Regions from separate parts of the Homo sapiens genome. Here all the other regions are reported to be linked to region 4. The links are microRNA targets in miRTarBase. Many come from high-throughput screens and were not tested one by one. Region 4 holds a microRNA gene; each other region holds the end of a gene's coding sequence. Distances are from middle to middle.

Evidence for each region. The annotated mature microRNA hsa-miR-646 reads AAGCAGCUGCCUCUGAGGC and lies in region 4 at 1,538-1,556, shown strand. An mRNA with a match to its seed (bases 2 to 7 or 8) in the 3' UTR can be bound and repressed. Matches are read on the target gene's strand: a 7mer-m8 pairs with bases 2 to 8, a 7mer-A1 pairs with bases 2 to 7 and ends in A, and an 8mer does both.
Region 1: miRTarBase lists CDC42SE2 as a target of hsa-miR-646. Seed matches in the 3' UTR shown: 7mer-A1 at 2,332-2,338.
Region 2: miRTarBase lists ZNF367 as a target of hsa-miR-646. Seed matches in the 3' UTR shown: 7mer-A1 at 3,544-3,550.
Region 3: the mRNA of SNRPB2 is a reported target of hsa-miR-646. Seed matches in the 3' UTR shown: 7mer-A1 at 777-783.
Region 5: the mRNA of VOPP1 is a reported target of hsa-miR-646. Seed matches in the 3' UTR shown: 7mer-A1 at 581-587.

Annotation. Positions count from the first base shown.
Region 1 is chr5:131,390,609-131,394,760 of GRCh38, reverse strand. CDC42SE2 (CDC42 small effector 2) reads right to left here. Exons shown (of 5, transcript NM_001375635.1): 5 at 89-3,768. The coding sequence ends at 3,670. It overlaps LOC105379173 (a long non-coding RNA gene), which reads left to right. Exons shown (of 3, transcript XR_007058929.1): 3 at 1-121. Among named protein-coding and RNA genes, the nearest start is that of CDC42SE2, 130 kb to the right of the region's middle.
Region 2 is chr9:96,384,589-96,388,740 of GRCh38, forward strand. It overlaps ZNF367 (zinc finger protein 367), which reads right to left. Exons shown (of 5, transcript NM_153695.4): 5 at 1,353-3,871. The coding sequence ends at 3,649. Among named protein-coding and RNA genes, the nearest start is that of SLC35D2-HSD17B3, 3.0 kb to the left of the region's middle. RefSeq lists an enhancer at 4,075-4,152.
Region 3 is chr20:16,740,743-16,744,870 of GRCh38, forward strand. It overlaps SNRPB2 (small nuclear ribonucleoprotein polypeptide B2), which reads left to right. Exons shown (of 7, transcript NM_003092.5): 7 at 104-1,822. The coding sequence ends at 263. Among named protein-coding and RNA genes, the nearest start is that of OTOR, 5.6 kb to the right of the region's middle.
Region 4 is chr20:60,306,997-60,311,148 of GRCh38, forward strand. It overlaps MIR646 (microRNA 646), which reads left to right and starts at 1,478; the gene lies at 1,478-1,571. All of the region lies in intron 3 of MIR646HG (MIR646 host gene), which reads left to right.
Region 5 is chr7:55,469,342-55,473,341 of GRCh38, reverse strand. It overlaps VOPP1 (VOPP1 WW domain binding protein), which reads left to right. Exons shown (of 5, transcript NM_030796.5): 5 at 297-2,729. The coding sequence ends at 487. Among named protein-coding and RNA genes, the nearest start is that of VOPP1, 100 kb to the left of the region's middle. RefSeq lists an enhancer at 1-369.

The sequences.
Region 1 (4,152 bases), not on the chromosome of region 4:
CAAAAAAGGTGCTCTAACTGAATTCTGGTAAATAATTCCTTCCTTGAAAGAAAAGAAAAACTAAACAAAATTTAAAGGAAAGGCCAACCAGGATTGAAAGAAAACATTTATTGAATCAAAATCAATACTTTCTTTTTAGTATCTACAAGCCAACACAGAACTCATTTTATTCAAGAATGAACACAATGTACAAAAAAAGTATGCTTATATTATAAAAATATGTCAATTTTATCTTCTGGGTGCTTAGCAGAAGTCATTTTAAACAAAATCAAGGCAAACTTGTTCTCTATAATGAGTCTGCTATAATTTAACAACAAAGTGAAAGCTAATGTACTTACGAAGTATTTTTAAAGGCCCACTGATAATGCTGCACTGGAAATGCTAAACCCAATGTTAACTAAAGTCAACATTTCCGCTCTACGCTTACTGGCACCACTTCATGCCTACATCATGGGAAAGTACCTCTTTTACAGAATGCAGATCACTGCTAACAATCCACATGACTAAGTCTTCAGTTTCCCTTGCTTAACATTTGTTAGCATATATTTCAGCAAAGATTAACAGTATAATGAATGTTGAGTAGTAAAATCCTATTTAATTCGCTTCAATTTAAAAATGAGATATGCTGCTATGGGGAACAAATGACCTCTTGAGATTTACAACCCCCTTTATAAAAGTGGGAAAGCTGCCTCCCTAAAAAAAATTATGTCCAAGGTTAATACCGTATCTTTTTTTGTAGTTTTCTTATTTCTTGATTTTATTGGCACCTCCCAGGCACTTTGGCATGTGCTCCTGTATAAAGTGTAGTTACTGTGCCTGTAGAGTTAGTGGCAGCTGCAGAGTAGTTATAGGCTGACAAGTCCACTTTTGGCTTACCATGGAGATCTGCTCCAACACATGCTGGTCGTTGGAGCAGCAAAAAAAAAAAAAAAAAAAAAAAAAACAGCGATTTGGAAAAAGACTAAAATCATGAGTCAGGGAAAAGGATCACGGCTTCCCGTACTATTGTTCCAGGAGTTATATGACAAGTAGAAAAATTGTACTAATTTAAAGAGTCAGTCAAAATAGAAGTAGACTAAATAGCATGAGTGCTGATAATGCCAAGAAAATCCAATCTCTCTTCTAAAGAGCTTGCACACAGCACATAGCAATGTCCCTGGCCAAGAAACTGACCGTGCCTGGCTGAGCAGAATGACAACAGTACTCAGGCAAATTCCACAATGCAACATCCACTTGGTGAATCAGTGACAATGGATGAATTCAACTTACTTTAGAAGTTGTTATTAAACAAACTGCAAAATGTCTACTCCGAAGATGCAAATGTTTTTCCTTGGCAGATCCTCTCTGTGCTTGGGATTGACACAAAGGCTCAAAACTGCAAAATACAAAGATCAAGTAATCTGGTGCCCCGCTGTACTGGGTAAATTAAATTTTAAAAAGTGGAGGAGAAATGCTTTCACATTTTACCTACATAAACCTAATGTTTGTTCAGTTGCCTGTTTTGCAAGAATCTTGGACTAAGGTAAATGAAGGCAGAAGATAAAGTGATCCCTGTTCCTTTATTCCAAGTTAAAGTTTTTAATTAAGCCCCATTTGTTATATGAAATGTTAATCCTACCAAATGTAGTTAGATAGGCTTGAATTGGACATAGGATTTAAACAAACATTTTAATGAGAACACAAACCACTGACTCTGGCTTAACACCACACTCTAACAGAAAAGAAGAAACCTTTACAGAAATATTTGAAATATACAAAATTCGTGCAAGGACAAACATATTTTAGAACCTGAGCAAAGGCTTCGTACAGGTTGTTTTCACTGGCAATAATTCAGCCAGGTCGGTATGTATGTTGCTCTTGGCAACTGATGTGGCCCCTAAAATAATATGTAGAGCACAGAAAGGCCAGTGACTCTGGAGGTCTGCAGTTAGTAGTACAGGCCAGAAGTTCAAGAAACTGCTACTGGAAACAACTGGATACCATAACATTAAAAAGAAGTAAAAATAAAAGAATGAGTGCACAAAGAAACGAACAGCTAATTAATAAGATGAAGATGCTCAGGATTGGACTGGAGGAGAGTATGACCGCAACACTCAGATACATAACCACACCTGTAACCACACCTGTTTACAACCACAGGTCCTTGCTCTCAAAATAAATATATTGAACATTTACAACAGAATGAATGCCTTATGAATGCAAGCTTTTCTTTTATTGCAATTCTAATCAATCAATCAAACAGACCAAAAGGTCATACTTCTAAAATAAGCTACAAGTAATCTTTTTCTATGAAAATGATGTGACTTGGTGCCACAGCTAAACTTTATCTAATAGCAGCATCATCAGCCCATGGCAGCAAAGAAATGTTAATTTCTGGCATCCCATGGGCTCTTACCGAAGCAACAACTTCATAAAGCATGCAGATATCTATTCTGCTGAAGTTTCAAACAAACAAACAAATAAAAATGATCATTGTGCTTGTGGGTCTCATACCTTCCAAAATATACATAAATGATGGCAAATTAACAAATAATAGCAGGTCCTTGCTTTCCAATAAAATCGTAAGGCAGGGGGTCGGCAGTGAAAAGAAAAATGTTTAAAATAGAAAAAAAAAACTGCAAAATGGTGTTAGCATTCACAAAAAAGATCATGCGAAGATCAGATCCATACTGATTAAACATTGAAAATTCAGTGACAATCCAAAGAACTCTGTCCATGAGTCCAAAGGCATGCATGCCAGCTGAAGGAAATGCAGGATTCGTCTGACAGTATCTTCTTCAGAGCAGAACAGTAACATCTCACTGGAATAATCACGACAGGGTGGACAAGGTGCCATCACACTTCTTTTTTGTAATTCAAAATAAAAGCAATCACAGGACAAAAAAAAATTACAGAATAGTGGACAGAGAAAATATAGAAATTCACAATAACCCTATAAAACAAAAAAAAACTTGAAATTATTTCTACATTTTCAGGGTTTATCCTTTTTCAAAGTAGTCTTTTTAATTAATTTGAAAAGTTTATAAACAATGAAGTCTTAACTGTAAAATTACTACCCAAGAGATTATCTTTAGTATCAGTACTTTTTTGAGACAGGGTCTTGCTCTGTCACCCAGGCTGGAGCGCAGTGGCGCATTCTCAGCTGACTGCAACCCCTGCCTCCCAGGTTCAAGCAATTCTCGTGCCTCAGCCTCCTGAGTAGCTGCGATTACAGGCATGCGCCACCATGCCCAGCTAATTTTTGTATTTTTAGTAGAGATGGGGTTTCACCATGTTGGCCAGGCTAGTCTCCAATTCCTGGCCTCAGGTGATCAGCCCACCTAGGCCTCCCAAAGTGCTGGGATTACAGGTGTGAGCCACCATGCTCGGCCTCAATACTCAAAATAATGATTTCACTCTTGTTTAAAGGACACATAAGAAGCATCTTGTCATCAGAATCCTCCCCAACCAGATGTTTTAAAGTATTTAAAGTTCTTAATAAGGAAAAGAACCTAAAACTTACATTCCAAGTGCAGAAACTACACTTAGCTGAGTAATTTTGCCTTTCCCAATAAGTTCACCATTAAAAAATTATATATATATACATATATTTACTATTATTGGCCTGGCCATGTCTGGCCGTCAGGTCCAGACCCCAGCTCTGAGTACTCACTGGAGAAAGGACCAGGGCTATCCCGCCTTCGTATCCACGAGCTGCATCTGGACATTGGCAGGCATTCCACCTCCATAACCTCCCTTGGACTGCATTTGGTTCTGAATGGAGCTAACCTAAAACAAGACAAAAATACAACAAAACAAAATGGAAGTCAGGAAGTAGGTCCGGTGCAACTAAGTAATTCTTTTCCCAGAATTTTATTTGGGCTGCTTTTTTCAGAAGGGTACTTTTATAGACAAAAATTTTTTTATAGACAAACAATTTTCTAGTTATAAGGACAAACAGGGAGGCTAGCAACTGAAACATTTTTTGCAAAAACCCCTATTTTCTCTATTTCCAAATTACAAAAGTCAGTTTTGTAATTCACAAGGCACTTGGTAACATTTGAAAAATGGTCAAAAATATATAGATCAACTCCACTTTCTTTTTTTTTAAGACAGTCTCGCTCTGTTGCCCAGGCTGGAGTGCACTGGCGTCATCTCAGCTCACTGCAACCT
Region 2 (4,152 bases), not on the chromosome of region 4:
GCTCACACATGTAATCCCAGCACTTTGGGAGACCGAGGCGGGCAGATCACGAGGTCAGGAGATCGAGACCATCCTGGCTAACACGGTGAAACCCCGTCTCTACTAAAGATACAAAAAAAATTAGCCGGGCGTGGTGGCGGGCGCCTGTAGTCCCAGCTACTCAGGAGGCTGAGGCAGGAGAATGGCGTGAACCCGGGAGGCAGAGCTTGCAGTGAGGCGAGATCGCGCCACTGCACTCCAGCCTGGGCGACAGAGCAAGCCTCCGTCTCAAAAATATATATATTATATATTTAATATATAATGTATATTATATATATATATATATATGAACTTTTAGCTTCTTAGAAAAGCTTAAGATTTCAAGTTAAATAAAAGTTGGGGCCTAACTATATAGATGCCCAGAGAATTGTTTTTCTACCCTTAGGCACTAAACAACCAGGAGAATGAAAACTGGGAAACATTTTCAGCCCTGATAAGAACTAAAGCAGAACTCGTGAAAATTAGCTAGCATTAAAAAGACCAGAAGTGCCCAAGTTACCCAAAACAAGAAAGAAAAGACATGTTAAGTCCGTTTTAAAAGAGAAAATGAATCCATATTCAAGTTAAACAGGAAATCGGTCATTTTGGTTAATTTCCTCAGAACATTCAATTTTCTTGTGAGTCTCCAAATGTTTTGACTGCAAAAAGAATATTTTAAAGTTATTTTTAATGATGACCTTCATCATAATTGCATTTAGTTTGATTGTATACACATACTTCCAGGACCTTACCTCGCTGTCAAAATCCCATCCTTACCCTGTTTAAACAGCAACTCACACTAAGGAGTTGCTTGTGATATTCTTCTGCACAAGGGTAGGACAGGCTGACCCTTGCCACTGCAAATACACAACTAAAGATCTACCAAAAATAACTGATGAAAAAAGAAAACCAATTTGCTAGACTCTTAGAAAAGTACACAGGCTTTAAATGGATTCTTGAGGAGCTGACCCCAGAGACAACCCATCCTAAATGTAAGTGAAATGAAATCCCTTTTCCTTATTACCCTAATTTAAGGCCTGGAAATGGGGTGGCAATAGTTCAATACTTATCCACAGCAGTATATTTTTAACACTGTAGTAATGAACCCGATGAGGAAGTTAAATATCTATAACCTTAAAAGCCATAATTAAAGTAAGAAAAAGCAATCCACACTGTACTTACAACTACGCAAACATGTACTGAAATAATACTGATGGCTGAACATAAGGCTGTAGGTGATGTTTCTATCTTTTAAATTTTTTTATATCATGGTTATTATATTTTCGATAGGAAAACAAATGATAAAGGCTTTAAGAATGACCGTGTACTTTAAATTTTAAATTAAAATAAATTTTTATTCAAAGCATCTTTTAAAATTACAGCATGTTTATTCTTATGCTGTTAACTCTGCCAAACTACAACTTAGCCATATGAAGCATAAAACACTTCAAAAATTTGAATGTAAACCATTTTTTAAAACAAAAAGCAGTCTTAACACACCTCAAATTTTAGATACCAATGTATTTTTCCAAGTATATAGCTTATATCAAAAAGAACATTTTAAATGTTTCTAAATAGTTGTGATAATTTCTTAAACTGTTGCAATTATACAAATAAAAAATGTTTATGAAAAAACTATTAGAGTTGACAAAAGCTGACTGGAGAAACAAGGAAAAACCCTTACTTTTGAAGGCCTTAAATGTTATCATCTGTGAATTGGCAAATATTTGTATTTGAAAAATTCTTACTACCCTTCCTTCTTTAGTTAAGTTGATCAAAGTTCAAATTTCCCAAGACTGATGAGTGTTGTTTTTAGTTCATTAAATCACATATTTGAGAGCAAAAATTCTAGAGGAAATGCTGAAACATAAACCAAGATAATTCAGATGCTATAGTCTCTCTTACCAGCTTATAAGTGCTCCAAATTAAAATTCTATATACCACATTACAAAAAAATTCTTAGACCATTACAAATATAAATTCTCTTATTACAAAAAAATCCCTAAAGATTTGTAATTTACTGTACAGAGGAATTACATTTTTAAAGTATGTCCTCATCATACACATTATTCGTAACTATCGTATCTTCTTTCATACTTTTTCTCCTCTTCAAGACATTTACATGCCTCCCCTTCCCCGTGGCTACATATTTTAAACTATCTGTGTACTATGACACATTGGGATTTTTGGATAAAGAAGCCTACTTTGTAATGTTTAAACTACATCTGTAGGAACGTCTTCAACTCAAAAAAGCTAAAAAGGCACTGAAGAGCCCATATTTCCCTCTATTACTCTGAGTTTTACTCCAATTAAGCGATCTGTAAGTTACCATGCTATGCATGTCATTTAGTTCTGTTTAGAACAAAAGCCAAAATGATGGAAGTTTTGCCTACATAAAGGAGGTGGTCTGCTCAGCTCTTGATTTTTCTGTTCATGCTTCAGTACATAAAGTGGTGTTTAATAACTTTATTTGGAAAAATGGCTTCAAACCACCACACAAGTTAACACACTTGCAGTTAAAACTATTTCAGAAGCCTACTTATTTGAGTAGCTAATATTTTCTGCAGTGTTTAACTGATAGCTAAATTTAGTGAACACAAAATAGCTTGGCATGTTACTCTGAAGTAAAGCAAGAAGGTGGCTTTATGCACTGAAAATATAAATATGGAGGCTTCCATTTGCTAATAATTCTAAACAAGCAGTACAATTAAAATGTAGTGTTTGCTAACAAAAGATCTAAAACATTTCACTACAAAACAACCCTGCAGGTGTCCCTTTAGTAAAAATCCAAGTGCCAAATCTCATTACAGGGCCCTTAATATGTATTTTTAAAATTACCAATTACTATGTTACCTAGACTTTGCAAGATTAATCACTCAATTTCAGCAAATGAGAAATATGAAATGTGCAAAAGTTCCCAAGTTAACATGCTAGGGATGACAAGTGCTTTTCAAACTTAAACATTATACTGAGTTGTAAAGCCCCAGATAGAATAAGACTGATTTTGCTCCAATTTCAAAAATTCTGAACTATTGTGCATCTTACCAAGAGCCTCAAATATCTATTTTCTTCTAAGTCCATTACTTAGAACATCTTCCAAAATAGCCTCCCATTTCTCTAGCCTTAGTGGGCACAGTATTTTGCAATTAAAATTATCTATCTTACATATTTTATACTTTCTTGCTTGCTTCAGTGTTTACAGTATTGTTAAACATACTAATATATATTGTTAAAAATGATCTTATAAATAATCTGTTTTAATCTTCTTTGGCTATTTGTACCATTCTGTTTTTCAAACAAGTGTCTTATTCAGAAAGTGCTTCCTGTGAGAACTGCTTCCAATGAATGCATTAAACTTGCAAAATCTAGCTTCCCACAATATGTAGTTTTCTACCCTGTACTGTGCAGTCCATATTTACAAAATATTTTAAACTTTACGATGAATTCATTTCCATATTAAAAAAGTGCAGTTCTCTCTCACCCCATATTCTGGGGCAATAACATTCTTCATAAATTTCTACAGAATAGCAGCCTATGATAAGCAAATAAGGTGCTTAGCTTATGCCCAAGGATCTACTTTTTAAGTATGCTGGGCAGTACTTTTGTACAGTGGAAGAGTCAGTGTCCAAGCTACTGTCGGAGTGGCGCCCCAGTCAGGTTGGCAAGCTCTATGAGCGCGAGGGCTCCATGCAGGCGCTCCCGCTGCTCCTGCAGCCGGCGCTGGGCCCCTCTCTTCTCGTCGTCCTCTTCATCAGACTGAAGGTATTCCAGAGGGTCCTGCTGCTCCTGATCAGCCTTCTGAACCAGCTTGCCTTTCAAAGTGGGGGTGCGCTGCTCTCTCATTTCCCAATACCTATGTGAAATGCAGCAACATTAGTTACATGGCAGACATGAAATTTCCAAATGTTTACTTTTCTTTTAAAAAGTTCCATACCACAATATTACTTTTATGTGGTTCAGTTTATAAAGTTATAAAGTGATTTAACATAAATTTCCTATTTATAGAGGAAAGAAACTGAAGTTCAACGAGGTTAAGAGACGTGCTCAGGTTTCCACAATAAACCTGGCAGTTCTAGATCTTCTACTCACTCTCAAATCACGTTTTTGCCATTAAACTATCACCGCCTTAAAGAG
Region 3 (4,128 bases), 44 Mb from region 4:
TTATTTTTCTTGGACTAGTATTAGGAAGTTGCTTAACAAATTTTAACACAAAGCAAACATTTATGTACTTGCTGTATACATGAATTGTTTTTCTTCTTTATAGGTTCCCTGGCTTCAAGGAAGTACGTCTGGTACCAGGGAGGCATGACATTGCTTTTGTTGAATTTGAAAATGATGGGCAGGCTGGAGCTGCCAGGGATGCTTTACAGGGATTTAAGATCACACCGTCCCATGCTATGAAGATCACCTATGCCAAGAAATAACATTTGGGATAGTCGTCTTTAAAAGACTTGGTGTTATTTACAGTGTTTGTTTTGATAACATTTGGCTGGGTCATTTTAATAGTTAGAGATGAGGAGGAGTAAAAGTGAAATTTTTGTGAAGGACTTAAATTATCCAGTGTTTCTTTAGCCTTGGTGAACTATGAAATACGAAGGCCTTAATTTTGTACAATAAACTTTTATTTGTATTCTGTGTATATAATGCTTTCTTGATTGACCCATCTCCCTATCATCAAATGACTTCTAGTCTAGAACACACTTAAGGTTTATAAACTTGTGTAATAGGATGCTTTTCTAGTGTTACTTTGGAGGAGCTAATTATACAACATCATTGAACCATTCAATAAAAGTTAAGTAAAATTAGATCACAGAAGCTAGTAGATGACTGTTGTATTAATGGTAACAATGATTGTTCTGGGTATTAGAAGAAAATGAGACCCAGGCAGGATCTAAATTTGATCTTTGTATCCTTTTAAGAAATGAATATATTATTTTGCTGCTAGTAGGGATTCCACAAGTTTTCTTCATTCAGTATTAAATAAAGGCTGTTCTTACTGTTTACTGAGAAAACAGAAAGGGAATGCTATCTTCACACTTTGCATTTAATGCTGTTTCCTTCATGAGGCAGGACTGTTCTAAGGTTAATATGCAATCTCTTTATTGAAAGACCTCCAGGGTAAAAATTTTTTGATCTATAGTCTCTTTTCCCCCTTAAGACAAATAGACTGATTAATAAAGAGTTGCCAGTGCTAAGCTTGCTACTTCTTTGTAATTCTTAAACACCAATGTTCAAATATTTCCAAAGCCCATTTTCTTTAGCTTTTGATTTATGTTTAAGGCTATTGATTCAGTCCTCTGCTGAGTAAACCATGGGTATCTCCAGAAGTGGACAATTTGTTTTTACAAGTATGGTACATATTAATAGTAACAACAACAAAAAAGAAAACAGTACTTATTTTTCTGGTGTTCCTGTTTTAGTATTCCTTGAACAAAACCTTTATCACTTGGAATTTTTATTGTCTACTTATGGAAAGACTTTTAGACTTACGTAGACAGTATCACATCACTCTTATGCATACATAAAGAGGAAAAAAATGTTTCCTATAACTTTGTCACAGTTAGTCTGACTCTTCTGAATAACTTTTTTAATCCCAGTAGTCAAGCTCCTGTACTTTTGTAAAATATATTAACAGTGAATTACTAGAAAATGGGCCATGTTCTTGTATATTACAGTGATGTCAATTGCTGATAAATTTTCTAACTGCTTACTCTCGGATACCGTACTTGTCTAAGAACTGAAAATAATTCACAGACTGATCCCATGCCCAGTCCTGGCCATGCTTTGAGTGGCTGTATTGGAGCAGAAAAGCCAGGGTGGCTCACCTGGGGTGAGAATGAGGGGGGTGAATAGTAAGAGGGGTCGTGTAGGTCTTCTTCAGGATTTGCTTATACTCTGAGTGAAATGGGGGACTATTTTAGAGAATTTTTTTAAAGTGGGTTAGAATTTACGTACAATAAAGTTCACCCATGTTAGTGTTCCATTTGATGAGTTTGGGCAATTGTATATAGTCATGTAATAATCAGTACAGAGCATTCCATCACCCCCAAAATTTCCCTTGTACGCCTTTGCAGTCAATCTATTCCCCTCTACCCTTGGCCGTAGTCAACTACTGATCTGCTTTCTGTCCCAACAGTTTCGCCCTGTCTGGAATGCTTTGGAAATGTATCTGCTGTTGCCTATATCAGCAGTTCCACCAATGAATGGGCATTTGCGTTCTCCAATTTGAGGCTATTAAGAAAGTGGCTATGAAAATTTACATACAAGTCTGGGCATATGTTCTATTAGATTTCAAGCAGAAGAGTGATAGTTTGATACAATTTCTAATTTACATAAAAGTTGCAGAAATGGTACACAGAACTTTCATAACACTTCAAATTAATCATTAATGTTTCTAGGCTTCTGGGCTATTTGAGGTTGTGATTACATTGACCTGATACCCCATTATTCCATGATACTTCAATGTGTGTTCTTAAGTACAAGACCACCCTCCCACATAACCACAATAATGACCATCAAAACCAGGGAATGTGGCTGGGTGCGACGGCTCATGCCTGTAATCCCAGTGGTTTGGGAGGCTGAGGTGGGAGGGTCATGTAAGACCAACTGGGGCAACAGTGAGACCTTGTGTCTACAAAAAGAAAAAAAATAAGCTGGATGTGGTGGTGTGTGCCTGAAGTCCCAACTACTGGGGAGGCTGAGGCAGGAGGATTGCTTGAGCCCAGGAGGTTGAGGTTACAATTATGTGTGATCATGCCACTATGCTGCAGTCCGGGCAACAGAGTGAGACCCTGTCTCAAACAAAACAGGAAATAATCCCATATTATCATCCAATCCAAGTTTTGTTTATATTCCAATAATGGCTCAAGAATCCAATCCAGGATTGTGTTGCATGTAGTTGTCATGTTTCTTTAGCCTCCTGTTGATTCCTCAGCTTCTCCTTGTCTTTCATGATGTGAATTTTATATAGAGATAGTCTGTCTACCTCTGGATATATCTACACAGTTATGTTAAAAACTATGAATGTCTAAGAATGTCTCTGCAGTCTTAACAGCACTGAGTTCATCCTGGCTCTCCCCCTTCCCCTGTGTATAAATCACTTCTCCACCAGTCCCATTAACTTCAATATATTATATTTGCTAATTTTCCCAAATCTTTCCTGTGCAATCAAACTCTATAAGGCTTCAATAGGGAGCAGGGGAAAGGAAAAAGGAGACAGCAATGCTTTAAAGAAGATTTGGTCAAACCAAGATCTTTTGACCTTCCCTATCTCATCCATCTTTTGGGAGTGTGAGTTTTGAGGAATGATTGAAGGGAGTAGATGTTATTTAATATAGTGGTTCTTAACTTTGGCTGCATATTAGAATCATCTGGGAGCCATTTTCAAATACCCATGCTCAATCTACACCCCAGATCAATTAGTCTCCAGGGATGAAACGTAGTCATCAATATTTTTATAAACCCCCCTCCCCCCCCAGGGTGATTCCCTTGTCACCCAAGATTAAGAACTAACAAAGCAGGTTTCTACTTTCATGAAGTAGGGCATCATAGATCATTGACTCAAATGGTGTTTTTCAAAAGTAGTATATTGATAAATAGAGGATAATGTTAATTCTGGAAATGGTTGTGATGCAGGGCAGGCAAGCCTCAAACTTGGGGCTTAGCCCAGGAGGATTCTTGGCTTCATCCAGGAAAGAATTCAAGGGTGAGCTCATGGTGGTAAACAGCAGTCTTTTGGTAAATAGTGTTGCCCCTTGCAGAGCAGGGCTAATTCATACACGGTGTGCCCAGAGTTGGCAAAGTATTGGCTCTTGGCAACTGCATTTATACCCAGTTAAACTCACTTTCGGTCACATGCAAATTAAGGGGAGGCTCAATACAAATTGAGGGGCAGATTATTTAGAACTTTCTAGGAAAGGAGTGGTAACTTCTGGGTCATTGCCATGGAAAGGGGTGGTAATTTCCAGGTTGTTGCCATGGCATTTGTAACTGTCATGGCACTATGGGAGTGGCTTATGCTAATAAACAATGAAGACAGCTGAGGATCGCTTTTCTTGACATCTCCTTGTCCCTGCTGGTTTCTTCACTTTTTACTGCCTGGACCAGATCCTGTTCTGGTCAGCAGGGTGGTGACCAGAAAACAAGTTCTTCTGGTCTCCTACCTCAGTTGCAAGAAACTCAAAACTCCATTTTAAACTTTAAGCCTTATAGTATCTTCTGTTTGAGTATTTAACAAGCATTTGTTTTTCCTTGAAAATATATCCAGCCAAGACCTTATGAAGAATGTGA
Region 4 (4,152 bases):
GTAGAGCCAATGCCACAGTTGCTACAGAAAATAAATAGGCTAAGCAGGGCCTGGGGTTGGTTATTTCCATAGACTTGTCCTGGAAATGTTAATCAAAGCAAACCAGAGGGAGCAGGGAGCCAGGGTTATTCTGATAGTGCTAAAAAAATTAAGTTCCCGGCCGAGCGTGGTGGCTCACACCTGTAATCCCAGCACTTTGGGAGGCCGAGGTGGGCAGATCACGAGGTCAAGAGATTGAGACCATCTTGGCCAACATGGTGAAACCCCGTCTCTACTAAAAATACAAAGACTAGCTGGCATGGTGGTGAGCGCCTGTAGTCCCAGCTACTTGAGAGGCTGAGGCAGGAGAATTGCTTGAACCCAGAAAGCTGAGGTTGCAGTGAACAGAGACTGCACCACTGCACTCCAGCCTGGCGACACAGTGAGACTCCGTCTCAAAAATCAAGTTTCTGTTAGCCCTTTGCAATCTGGTCATAGTTCTTTCTCTCTTCCTCCCTCACTCTTTCTTTATGGAAACTATGCCTACCTGTGTATTTTCTTTGTGAAATATGATTTCACACTTTAGCTTATAAAAGAGGTTTTGCCAGGTGTGATCGCTCACGCCTGTAATTCCAGCACTTTGGGAGGCTGAGGAGGGTAGATAACTTGAGGCCAGGAGTTGGAGATCAGCCTGGGCAGCATGGCAAAACCCTGTCTTTACTAAAAATACAAAAATTAGCCGGGCATGGTGGCGGGCACCTGTAGTCCCAGATACTCAGGAGGCTAAAGCAGGAGAATCACATGAACCTGCGAGGCGGAGGTTGCAGTGAGCTGAGATCACACCATTGCACTCCAGCCTGGGCGACAGAGTGAGACTCTCTTCTCAAAATAAATAAAAGGGGTTTTAAAATTTGTTGTGGGGGGCGGGGAGGATTGGTAAAGGCTAGGAAATTCATTTAAAAAGAAGACCCAATGTTTGTCATGGCATCTTCAACTTCCACCCTCAGGGATGGAGGGAGATGTGCACTTGGCCTTTTCTAGTTGGACAGGTGTGCAGGTGAGGGCAGGACTCCTGGGGGCTTTAATCGGCCAGGGTTTGCCTGGTGCACACTGCCAAGAAGGTGAAAAGACGCAGGATAGGGATCTCCTATAGGCGGTAAAGGGATGGGTCAGGTGTAAGTCATCACACGCTCCTAAGCCCTGAGCAAATCACCCAGGATCCGGTGGAGATGACATTGTCATGACAATTCTGTCCTTCCTTCTGCCTTCCACGCACCAGGTAGAGGGGTAGGGCGACTGTCAGAGTTCACTCATGACACAGAGCCCCTCTGCTGGGTCAAGCAGGAAGGGATTCAGGACCGGGAAACAGATGCTTACAGGTCATTGTTGAAAGTGCTGAGGAGGGGCTCTGGCTGGCTCCGGGTTTTCTCGAGCACTGTGTAGCAAACCTGCCAGGACAGCACTGACTACCACAGCCAGGACAGTTCAGAAGCCTGGAGATCAGGAGTCTGCCAGTGGAGTCAGCACACCTGCTTTTCACCTGTGATCCCAGGAGAGGAAGCAGCTGCCTCTGAGGCCTCAGGCTCAGTGGCCTATCTTTACCCCAATGCATGCAGGTCAGAATGTAGCTGAACAGCAGCCCAGGGTCCTGCCCTGCTGCCAGCGGGAAGAAGAAAACAGCCAAAGCAGGAGGTGATCTTACCTACCCCTCCACCTCCACCTCGGGCCCAATTTGCATCCTGAGTCCCTGCACGGGGGCCTGCCAGGGGGACTTCACATGCTCAGCTGATGCAGGTGGAGGGGAAGGGAGAAGGCTGCCTGGATGCGGGGCCTGTCCACCCCTTCCACCCCATACAGCATCTGGTTCTGGTGTGGGTCCTCTCCTCCTCTTTCTCTACACACACACACACACACACGAGAAACACGCAGTCTCACACGTCTGATGCTGCCCCACACGTGTCGCCAACATCAGCCTTTGTCCAGCCTCAGCCTCTTTCCTCTCTGAGGGTTTGGCCACATCCACTGGCACTGCATTTCTTCCCTGCAATTTTGCTACGTCTAAGTATTGTCTCTATTATGATCTAGTTTTTGTCACCTTAGTTGACTTGTTAAGCTGAAATAGTTATTTCAAAAGGAACCAGTTACACAGATGGAAAGCCAGTGTCATTTGTATTAATAGGAGATAAAGGAATAATTAATACAATAAAAAGGGAATGCATCTTTATGAAATATTAATTATCAAAGGATCTGAGTCCAAGGACTGTGCTCTTTACTGAAAAGATAAATGAGTAAAGTGAGGTGTCAAAGATACATTATTCTGAAACTGAGCCTTTTTCATCAGATGGATCAAAAAGCAATTACAGTTGAGCCTTGAACAACAGGGGGCTTGATCTGCATGGGTCCCCCTACATGCTGGTGGTCTTCTACCTCCGCCACCCCAGAGACAGCAAGACCACCTCCACTTCCTCCTCAGTCTACTCAATGCAAAGACCATGAGGATGAAGACCCTATGACAGTCCACTTCCACTTAATGAATAGTGGAATATGAACAGAGAAAATCTATATGAATAGAGAAAATCTATATGAATAGAGAAAATGAATAGAGAATATGAATTGAGAAAATCCATTTTCTCTTATTTTCTTAACATTTTCTCTTTTCTAGCTTTATTGCAAGAACACAGGATACATATAACATACAAAATGTTTTAATCAACTGTTGGTTATTAGTATGACTTCCAGCCAAGAGTAGGCTATTAGTAGTTAAACTTTTGGGGAGTCAACAGTTACTTGTGGATTTTCACTTGTGCAGGGGGCGGTGGAGCAGTTGGTCCCCTAATCCCCCACGGTGTTCAAGAGTCAAATGTGTGAAAGGGTAATACACATTGCTGTGCCTGCCAGCTGAGACGATACAGGACAACAGTGGTCATCAGCTTATACTTTTTCATTTCTCATTTAATTTTTCAAACTATCCTGGAATACGTATTATTCCCAGTTTAAGATGGGGAAGTTGAGATGCAAGAAGAAATTGGACACGGTTCCAGATTGAGGAAGTGGGGGTGCTGGACCTGTACCCAGCTTCTTGACCTGAGTCCTGGGGGCTCCATATGAATCAGAAGGGGGCAACCGTGTGTCAAAGCCCTCAGCTCCCAGCATTAGACTCATGCTTACGACATGCAGCTTTCACCCCTCTTTGATCAAGAGAGGGTTTCTTCTGTAATGTTTCCCCCATTCTGAGATCTCAAGGCAGTTTACCTCAAGGGACATGGTGATGGCTCTTTTCAATCTCTGGGTTGGTTCTCTAACATGAAAGACCACATGGCCGGGTGCAGTGGCTCACGCCTGTAATCCCAGCACTTTGGGAGGCCGAGGTGGGCAGATCACCTGAGGTCAGGAGTTTGAGACCAGCCTGACCAACATGGAGAAGCCCGTCTCTACTAAAAATACAAAATTAGCCAGGTGTGGTGGTGCATGCCTGTAATTCCAGCTACTTGGGAGGCTGAGGCGGGAGAATTTCTTCAACCCGGGAGTCAGAGGTTGCAGTGAGCCGAGATGGCGCCATTGCACTCCACCCTGGGCAGCAACAGTGAAATTCCATCTTAAAAAAAAAAAAAAAAAAAAAAAAGAGAACACGGAGAGCATGAATAAGTGGAGCCTACACTGCAGAGATCTGTTGGATTTTTCTGGGAATGGCTTTGCCTTCATAAACATTTTCCTTTCTCAAGTGTCAGGGACAGGGAATCAAAGCGGCACATGCTGACCTTTCTCCACAAAACGGAACCTCCCGGCCCCGGGGCCATCTGTCTCCATTGATGCACGGCAGCTAGAAAGATGAGGACTCAGACCTGGGAAGTCTCTCAGAGCAGCTCTCTGGCAGGCCTGTGGCTCATTTTTAATTGCTCAGCAGTGAAAATTATAGAGGAGAATAGAATGTCTGCCCTGGCAGTTGGACGATTTTCTTACCAGTAACCTGAGGATGTGACCTGGTGGGCTCTGCAGAAAGAGAGGAGAGTTGTAAGTCTGTCACCTGTGAACATCTGGCAGAGGTTATTATGCATGCAAATTTTATGCATGAAATTCAAAGATGGAGGCCGACACCCCCTCCCCCCGCAAGTTTTATGACCTGTGGATAAGTTATGCGTGAGTTATGCATCTGACTAACGTAGGGGCAGACCC
Region 5 (4,000 bases), not on the chromosome of region 4:
GATAGTTCACCGCAGACAGCCTCACCTTACTGTGGCCCAGTTTCCTCCACCCTAATGTGTGAACTGGTAACGTGGAATGTAGTCCAGTAGAATCAAAGCCCCGAGAGGGCAGGGACCTGCCTATTGTGTTGCTTGTCACCACAGCCCAGGTGCCCCCTCACCGGGCATGTTGGGTCCTTCATACACTGTCGCTGAGTGAATGACGGGGCGTGGTCTGCTGGCCCTGCAGCCTGCACATACTTGCGGTGTGATGGGGCTTTCCCTTCTGTGCTCACCTATGTTTGTCTGTCTTTCAGGAGCCCAGCAGCCGGGGCCGCCCTATTACACCGACCCAGGAGGACCGGGGATGAACCCTGTCGGGAATTCCATGGCAATGGCTTTCCAGGTCCCACCCAACTCACCCCAGGGGAGTGTGGCCTGCCCGCCCCCTCCAGCCTACTGCAACACGCCTCCGCCCCCGTACGAACAGGTAGTGAAGGCCAAGTAGTGGGGTGCCCACGTGCAAGAGGAGAGACAGGAGAGGGCCTTTCCCTGGCCTTTCTGTCTTCGTTGATGTTCACTTCCAGGAACGGTCTCGTGGGCTGCTAAGGGCAGTTCCTCTGATATCCTCACAGCAAGCACAGCTCTCTTTCAGGCTTTCCATGGAGTACAATATATGAACTCACACTTTGTCTCCTCTGTTGCTTCTGTTTCTGACGCAGTCTGTGCTCTCACATGGTAGTGTGGTGACAGTCCCCGAGGGCTGACGTCCTTACGGTGGCGTGACCAGATCTACAGGAGAGAGACTGAGAGGAAGAAGGCAGTGCTGGAGGTGCAGGTGGCATGTAGAGGGGCCAGGCCGAGCATCCCAGGCAAGCATCCTTCTGCCCGGGTATTAATAGGAAGCCCCATGCCGGGCGGCTCAGCCGATGAAGCAGCAGCCGACTGAGCTGAGCCCAGCAGGTCATCTGCTCCAGCCTGTCCTCTCGTCAGCCTTCCTCTTCCAGAAGCTGTTGGAGAGACATTCAGGAGAGAGCAAGCCCCTTGTCATGTTTCTGTCTCTGTTCATATCCTAAAGATAGACTTCTCCTGCACCGCCAGGGAAGGGTAGCACGTGCAGCTCTCACCGCAGGATGGGGCCTAGAATCAGGCTTGCCTTGGAGGCCTGACAGTGATCTGACATCCACTAAGCAAATTTATTTAAATTCATGGGAAATCACTTCCTGCCCCAAACTGAGACATTGCATTTTGTGAGCTCTTGGTCTGATTTGGAGAAAGGACTGTTACCCATTTTTTTGGTGTGTTTATGGAAGTGCATGTAGAGCGTCCTGCCCTTTGAAATCAGACTGGGTGTGTGTCTTCCCTGGACATCACTGCCTCTCCAGGGCATTCTCAGGCCCGGGGGTCTCCTTCCCTCAGGCAGCTCCAGTGGTGGGTTCTGAAGGGTGCTTTCAAAACGGGGCACATCTGGCTGGGAAGTCACATGGACTCTTCCAGGGAGAGAGACCAGCTGAGGCGTCTCTCTCTGAGGTTGTGTTGGGTCTAAGCGGGTGTGTGCTGGGCTCCAAGGAGGAGGAGCTTGCTGGGAAAAGACAGGAGAAGTACTGACTCAACTGCACTGACCATGTTGTCATAATTAGAATAAAGAAGAAGTGGTCGGAAATGCACATTCCTGGATAGGAATCACAGCTCACCCCAGGATCTCACAGGTAGTCTCCTGAGTAGTTGACGGCTAGCGGGGAGCTAGTTCCGCCGCATAGTTATAGTGTTGATGTGTGAACGCTGACCTGTCCTGTGTGCTAAGAGCTATGCAGCTTAGCTGAGGCGCCTAGATTACTAGATGTGCTGTATCACGGGGAATGAGGTGGGGGTGCTTATTTTTTAATGAACTAATCAGAGCCTCTTGAGAAATTGTTACTCATTGAACTGGAGCATCAAGACATCTCATGGAAGTGGATACGGAGTGATTTGGTGTCCATGCTTTTCACTCTGAGGACATTTAATCGGAGAACCTCCTGGGGAATTTTGTGGGAGACACTTGGGAACAAAACAGACACCCTGGGAATGCAGTTGCAAGCACAGATGCTGCCACCAGTGTCTCTGACCACCCTGGTGTGACTGCTGACTGCCAGCGTGGTACCTCCCATGCTGCAGGCCTCCATCTAAATGAGACAACAAAGCACAATGTTCACTGTTTACAACCAAGACAACTGCGTGGGTCCAAACACTCCTCTTCCTCCAGGTCATTTGTTTTGCATTTTTAATGTCTTTATTTTTTGTAATGAAAAAGCACACTAAGCTGCCCCTGGAATCGGGTGCAGCTGAATAGGCACCCAAAAGTCCGTGACTAAATTTCGTTTGTCTTTTTGATAGCAAATTATGTTAAGAGACAGTGATGGCTAGGGCTCAACAATTTTGTATTCCCATGTTTGTGTGAGACAGAGTTTGTTTTCCCTTGAACTTGGTTAGAATTGTGCTACTGTGAACGCTGATCCTGCATATGGAAGTCCCACTTCGGTGACATTTCCTGGCCATTCTTGTTTCCATTGTGTGGATGGTGGGTTGTGCCCACTTCCTGGAGTGAGACAGCTCCTGGTGTGTAGAATTCCCGGAGCGTCCGTGGTTCAGAGTAAACTTGAAGCAGATCTGTGCATGCTTTTCCTCTGCAACAATTGGCTCGTTTCTCTTTTTTGTTCTCTTTTGATAGGATCCTGTTTCCTATGTGTGCAAAATAAAAATAAATTTGGGCATGTGCTTTGATTGTTTTGTTGGGGGAGTGGGAAAGAGGGTGGAGATGAAGTTTCTAATGAGGAAGGGTGTACAGCAGATCCTTGGTTCAGTGGGGTGAGGTGGGTGGAGGATGCACCTGGTCTCAGGGGAACCAGAAACTAGATGTTATTTGAGAATGTAAGATACAAGCTATGGAGACAATTGTCCCCAGTGGGTAGGAAGACAGAAGCATCGCTGAAGTAATGTACTGTTGATACTGTAAGTTAACCTTGAGCTAGGGCTGTTTTTCACAGGTCGGGGAGCCTTCATCTTAAAACACAGCTCTGCTTGGTCAGAAATAACACTTCTCTCACAGATGCTGCTGAAGGGTGTAGCTGCTACAGTTAAACTGCATTTTAATTATTTATTTTTTATTTTATTTTGTGTTTTAGAGATGGGGTCTCACTGCGTTTCCCAGGCTGGTCTCAAACCATTGGCCTCAAGCAATTCTCCTACCCCAGCCTCTCAAGATGTATTTTAGATGTATCACTAATTGACATAATGTTTGCAAAGAAGCATTTTCTATTTTGCTTCCTTTTTGTTTTTTTAGAGACAGGGTCTTGTTCTGTCACCCAGCCTGGCATGCAGTGGTTCAATCATAGCTCACTGCAGCCTCAAACCTCTAGGCTCAAGCGATCCTCCCACTTCCCAAAGCCGTGGGATTACAGGCATGAGCCACAGTGCTTGGTTTATTTTTGCCTTCTTAAAGCATGGGTCCTAGAGCATGGTCCCTCCCCTAAAAGTCTGTAGAGCATTTGGGGATCACAACTGTGTCCATCCCTGGGAGACGGGCAGTGCACACAAGTATATTGAACAGTCTGAGAAGCATCTTAATGCTGTTTAATCCAGCACTCCCCCAAATTAGTAGGCCATACAGTTCTTTTCCTTGTAGCAGGCAGTGCTGGCAGTAAGCACACCACTTCTGCCCACCCCATATTTGAGGACAGCTGCCCTGAAAGGCAGAACAAAGAAAGGGCAGCAGTGCTCCCAACTCTGTTATTCTGCACCCTTGCAGCTGGGCCTTTTATCAAAGTGCTGTTCTCAGGCAGGGCGCCGACAAATCCACTGACTACTTGGCACTGTGTGTGGTTTTTGAAAGTCTGTTTGATTTTTTTAATATATTTTGCATCTGTTTTCACCTTTAAAAGGCAGCTGCAAATGACCCATTTTTGTGATAAAACTAACTCAGAGTACAGGTGCAACCCCACTGATGTAAACAGCTTTTGAGGCTTTGAGGTTTTAGATGACAGTC